2 separate regions of the Homo sapiens genome follow, and region 1 is linked to region 2. The links come from fine-mapping of genetic effects on plasma protein levels. Region 2 holds a variant in brackets. A gene starts in the other region. All regions are shown on their reverse strands.

Region 1 (2,900 bases), not on the chromosome of region 2:
ACACACGGCCACTCCATGCACAGGACCAGAGACATGCAGCCTCCAGGGGTGCCAAGTCTGTCCGGAGCCTGGTGGGCTCCGAGGGGAGGGGCTGTCAGGGACACACAGGCAAAGGGATAACTGAAACCCCTTGCCTATGGGGGGAATGGTGGGGGCTCATCAGTGTTTGTTGAATGAATTAGTGACCTGAACCCAAACCTCAAGGCTGTTCTCCTGAGCTGTGTGCTGGGGCGGAAGGGGTCTTCTAGGGCTACAAGGAATATCCCTTTGGGAAACATCAGCCCCCGTTGCTAGGATGTGGGAGGGGTGCCACCGACCACACTCACACGGCCCCGTTAAGCACAGCCAGGTGGCGGGTGAGGTAGATGGTGTCATCCTTGATGGTCAGCAGGATGGACTCCACCCCGGCGGGGGCCTCAGCCTGGCCCGGACCCCGCTTCAGGTGCACAGCAAATTCCTTGTAGGAGCCTCGGCAGTCGGAGGCGAAGTTGTAGTCGCAGGGGCCGGGGAAGCGGAAGACGTCCCCGTCGAAGGTCTTGTAGTGGAAGTTGCCCCAGGTGCTGCAGACGTTGTGGCCGTGGTTTCGGGTTCTGCCCTCTGAGGGAGCAGCGGGGAATGAGGGGTGAGTGGCCCCGGAGGGGGAAGGCTGCCCAAGCTACCCTCGAGAGAAGGCCCCTGAAGAAGCACCTGGAAGCAGCTTCGAGCCCAGCACAGGGCCCCTGGCCGGGAAAGGTTCCTTCCTATCCTCGGGCCCTCTGCTGGGCCTTGGTCACCCCACCACAGGGGTCTCAGGGCTTCTACCCCCGGCCTGGTGAGGAGTGCGGCCGGGTGCCAAGCGGGATGTAGGAGAGGGCATTCTGGGCACCCCGCTCCCCAGCAAGGGCTGTGCTGCCCCAACTCTTCAAGGGTCTCTGCCACCTGAGAATGGGGCCTTCTGGTGGGATCCTGGCCACCCCTTCCTCCCCTATGGACAATGACCCAGTTCACTGGGGCCTGACCTGCTGTTTCCACCTGGTGCTGGCCCCAAGACCCACACTGTCGTCGGGCAGTCAACCCCAAAGGAATAGCAGGGGAGCCCCGACCTTCCAGCTCCTTGAAAGTCAGCAGGGCCGGGGGCTTCCAGGGACCAACCCGGGCCAGGAGCCTCAGCAGAGCCGCGCAGGCTGCACTCTGGGACCAGCTCCTCCTCCCAGACGCGACTTGCCCGCCCGCCTCGCCCTGCCCCCAGGACACTCTGCCAGGCCCCAGACCCCTGTGTCTGCTCTCTCACCTGTCTGGAGCTCCGAGCCCCCTGCCAAAGACAGGGCCAGGCACACAGCCGCCAGGCGGGCTAGTGGCAGCCCCATGGTGGCTGGCAGGGGCGGTGTGGGTTGCGCCCGGGGGCAGGGGTCTGGTCCTTATATGTCCTGGCAGGAGGGTAGGAGGGCAGGAAGGCAGGGGAGGGCCAAGGGTGGGTGTGGCATCTGCCAGATGATCAAGAAGACAGCTGCGGGGGCCCGAGCCCCAATGGGGAAATATTGATTCAGGTTATCGGAGGTCATCTCTTTATGGCTCCCTGGGTAAACGCAGCCTTCTTCAGGATGAGGCAGCCCTGTAGCCTGAATGCCAACACACACCCGGGGAACACATGCAGCTACTAGAGGGGCGAGCCCAGGGTGGCCGGGGGAGGGGTGTCCTGCCAGAAGCAAGTCTGGTCAGGCTCCTTAGCCCGCCATGGGCCCCCAGACACCCGCTGAGCAGGTCCCCAGGCCTGATCAGGCTCACGTTACGCTGGGAGGACCAACCCATTCCTGGGGCCCAAGCTCTGGGGCAGCTTCCAGGCCTGACCCCAGAAAGGGGCCTCCCCGAGGGCAGGGAGGATGTGGGATCCTTCAGGGTCCGGGGGGGCCACTGACTTGTGTGGGACTCTTGGCCGGGCTCATGGAGCTGTGTCAGAGGCCCCAGCCCCCAACCACCCCCTATGCCCATCCTTTTCCCAGGCTGAGCCCTTCTCTGCAGTTACATGTAATTAGAACTTGGGGAGTACATGCCCAGCCAGGGGACATGTTACGGAATCAGGCACACAGGGAGCTGGCTGGTGGCCGGAAGTGGCCGTCTGCCCCTTCTCCTGGGGACCACATGAGGACCTCGGGCCTGACAGCTGAGGAGGTGACAGCCTGCCCAGGCTCCCCAGAACTACCTCTGACTCATGGTGGGGATCCTGCCCCCAAGGCTGTGCCTTTGATGAGCCTTGGTCTCGCCCACCAATCCCAGCAGTTGTCTGGAAAAAAGCCTGGAGAACCGGAACTCACACCGACCCCAGACTACGAGACCACTGGGCCCACCACTGCTTGCCCCGGCCCGGGAGGGCACAGGCAGGCACCCCTGTGTCGCCAGTGGGTAAACTGAGGTCTGGGGGCCCTCCCCTCTCTCTACAATTTTCTCCTCCTGAAAATAGAGAGGGGCCCTGAGTTGAGTTCCTGGCTTTGGCCTGAACATGCCAGGGACATGCCGGCAGCATGATGGCAGTGGGGAGGGACTCACCCCAACAGTTATAGAGACTCGGGGCCCAAAGCACCAAGCCTGTTTCCCTGGCTGACCTGCTGCCCAGACCCAGGGCCTGGGACGAAGCCCCTCCCGCCCTCCTGCGGTGCCCGCCAGCACCAGGCCCCAGGGTCTGCGCTCCCTGCCAGGACCTGGGCACGTGGAGGAAGCTCAGTGTGTGGCCCCTGCCAGGAGGACCGGGGATTAGGAAACCAGAGCCAGCTGGGCGAGGCCAGAGGAGATCATTGTTCACTTCCTGGTGTGGGCCTCCGCACACTGGCACTGAGCCCTGGGGAAACCCAAGGACGGCCCCAACTGCAGTCCCCTGACCCTGACATGCCCCAGGCGGGCCTCAGGACAGAGATTTTCCAGGCCAG
Region 2 (2,864 bases):
TCTTTCCTCTGCTGTTCTTCCCATTGTTCCTTTAACTTTCGCTCTTGTTCTTGCCGTTTTCTAGCCACCTCTTCCTTTTCCTTCTTTATTCTGAATTCTTCTTGTGCCTTCTGCTCTCTCAGCAACCACTCCTCATGTAATCTTTGCCTCTCTCTTCCCCATAGCTTTTCTAGTTGTTGTTTTTCAATAAAAGTGTCCTCCTCTTTCTGTGAGAGTCCTGAGTCCCTCAGTGGAGCAAGTTCCTGCTGGCGTTTCTTTCGTTTCTCCTTCTTCAGGGCGGCCCTGTACTTTTTGTGGCTTGGTTTCTCTGGAAATGTCACCTTTTCGGGCGCAGCCATCTTGCCGGCACCGCCCCGCCCCTCTAGTTGTATCCTTTATAATAAACTGGTAAACATTGTAACCGCAGATTCAGCCCAATCTGGTTCAACTTTGTGTAATAAAATGGCGAGTTGTTTTTCAGTTGTCGTGGACCCCCAGGTTGCAAGTTACATACCCTGGGCATGTCCAGATGAACGAAGCGTGCAAATCCACGTGGAACCTAAGTGCTCAGACCGAGGAACAGGGACTGAGTTAAGAAGTGGACACCACGTGGCATGATCCTTGATCCAATCAGATTGAGCCCTGGCGTGATCCAGTCAGATCAAGCCTCCTGAATCCCCTCATTACAAGATCCAATCATATCATGCCTCACTACCCTCTGTATATAAAATCTGCCCCAGCCTCCAACTTGGAGAGACAGATTTGGGCCAGACTCCTGTGTCCTTGCTTGGCTGCCTTGCAATAAATTTTTCTCTCTACAAAACCCCAGTGCTTCAGTGTTTGGTTTTCCACTGTGAGCCAGGGAACTGACCCAATTTAGTTCGGCAACAACATAAGCAAAATGTTTTCCCGAGTTCTCTAAATCATTCTAGGAAATTACTGAACTTGAGATGGACTTATGGGAAGCCACAATTTTTTGCCAGCCTGGCAGAAGTGTGGGTAGACAGTGCAAAGACTGTCTTTGCACCTGGCATCTGAAGCAGGGTCAGTCTTTTGGGACCTAGCCCTTTAATTTGTGGAATGTGGTGCTAACTCCAGGAAGCTAGTGTTAGAATTAGAGAATTTCTTTGGTGTAAATAAGACACCACAAACATCACTTCCTTTCTACTGATGTTGACCCCAAAGATGC[A/G]CCTTCATAAACAGCTTGCAAGCTAAATTCCGTCTTACTTAAGAGTTGACCTTCAACAGGCAGAGGAACTGTGAGGCTTGTTCTATGTCGTCTCCCAGAGGCTCCCAGGGGGATTGGACCCAATTGCCCTTTTCAGCTCATTGGTGCCTTTGTATTGGGTTCCTTCCTTTCCCTACCTGCTCCTCTTCATTCTTCCCATCCCCTGCTGATGCTTCTTGGAATCTCCTCCCAGATAAGCTACTTATATCCAAATCCTTGTCTCAAGCTCTTTAGTAGGGGAAACCCAAGCCAAGCTTATATTTTGATAACTACCAGGCATGGCTCCTTTTATGTGGGAGACAAGGTCTTGCTCTGTCACCCAGGCTGAAGTGCAGTGGTGCAATCATGGCTCACTGCAGCCTTGACCTCATGGGCTCCAGTGATCCTCCCACCTCAGCCTCCTGAGTAGCTGGGACCACACGTGTGCATCACCATATCTAGCTACTTTTAAAAAATTTTTTGTAGAGATGGGGTCTCACTGTGTTGCCCATGCTGTTCTTGAACTCCCGGGCTCAACTCATCCTCCTGCCTCAGCCTCCCAAAGTGCTGAGTTTACAGGCCTGGGCCGCTGTGGCCTGCCTGGTCATGGCTCTTCTCTATCAAAATGTTCTCAGGTATTCTTGTGCAATTTTTGGATGATTTTTGAGTCTACTCTGGCTTTAAAGGTTTTCATTTACTTGTGGAATAAGTCACGTGTGCACACAGAACCAAAACGTATCAATCTCTACAGTGAAAACTAAAGCTCATTCCGTCCCCGTTTTCCCATCTCAAGAGGTTACTGTCCCCACTTGTAGCTTTGCTATTTATTCCCAACTAAAGAGTATAACCTCTTTATTATATTCCAAATAATGAGCTTGTCAAGTTTGTTTTAAAATCTGTTTGGAAATCCTTCAACAGAATTTTGAAAATCTATCTGTGGAGTAGGTGGAGCCCAAAGGATTTTTATTTTTATTTTTATTTTTTGAGACAGAGTCTCACTCTGTCACCCAGGCTGGAGCGCAGTGGTGCAATCTCAGCTCCCTGCAGCCTCTGCCTCCTGGGTTCAAGCAGTTCTCCTGCCTCAGCCTCCTGAGTAGCTGGGATCACAGGCACCCGCCACCATGCTCGGCAATTTTTTTGTATTTTTCGTAGAGACAAGGTTTCACCACATTCGCTAGGCTGGTCTCGAACTCCTGACTTCAGGTGATCCACCCGCCTTCGCCTCCCAAAGTGCTAGGATTACAGGTGTGAGTCACCGTGCCCAGCCTATGAAATTTTCTTTTCTTTTACAAAGTAGATTCACATTGTTGTGTAACCATCACCACCATTCATCTCGCAAACTTTTTCATCTTCCCAAGTGAAACTCTGTCCCCAGGAAACACTGACTCCCCATTCCCCGTTCCCCAGCCCCTGGCACCCACCATTCTACTTTCTGTTTCTATGAATCTGATGACTCTAGGGACCCCGCATGAATGGAATCATACAGCCTTTGTCTTATTATGACTGGCTTATTTCACTTAGCATATTTTCCTCAAGGTTCATCATGTTGTAGCATGTGTCAGAATGTCCTCCCTTTTTTTTTTTGAGATGAAGTCTGACTCTGTCGCCCAGGCTGGAGTGCAGTGGGGCGATCTCCGCTCACTGCAAGCTCCGCCTCCCAGGTTCACGCCATTCTCCT

Direction of the effects. Positions count from the first base shown, and alleles are read on the strand shown. Strength reflects both the effect of a copy and how common the allele is.
For the plasma level of the protein whose gene starts at base 1,374 in region 1, G is the low allele of the variant in region 2 and A is the other (weak association).

What was found. PIP is the chance, under the fine-mapping model, that this variant and not a neighbour inherited with it causes the effect. The UK Biobank Pharma Proteomics Project read protein levels with antibody pairs (Olink). The fine-mapping took linkage between variants from a reference panel, not from the people measured, so its PIPs are less certain.
Region 1: it holds the start of MUC2, and the variant in region 2 is fine-mapped to the plasma level of the MUC2 protein (UK Biobank, PIP 0.92).

Annotation. Positions count from the first base shown.
Region 1 is chr11:1,073,348-1,076,247 of GRCh38, reverse strand. It overlaps MUC2 (mucin 2, oligomeric mucus/gel-forming), which reads right to left and starts at 1,374. Exons shown (of 58, transcript NM_002457.5): 1 at 1,271-1,374; 2 at 327-597. The coding sequence starts at 1,346. It overlaps LOC107987157 (a long non-coding RNA gene), which reads left to right and starts at 2,814. Exons shown (of 5, transcript XR_007062544.1): 1 at 2,814-2,900.
Region 2 is chr19:7,737,931-7,740,794 of GRCh38, reverse strand. CD209 (CD209 molecule) reads left to right here. Exons shown (of 7, transcript NM_021155.4): 7 at 1-802. It also overlaps the pseudogene LOC100129391. Among named protein-coding and RNA genes, the nearest start is that of CLEC4G, 7.3 kb to the right of the region's middle. The variant A/G (reference allele first, on the strand shown) is at 1,169.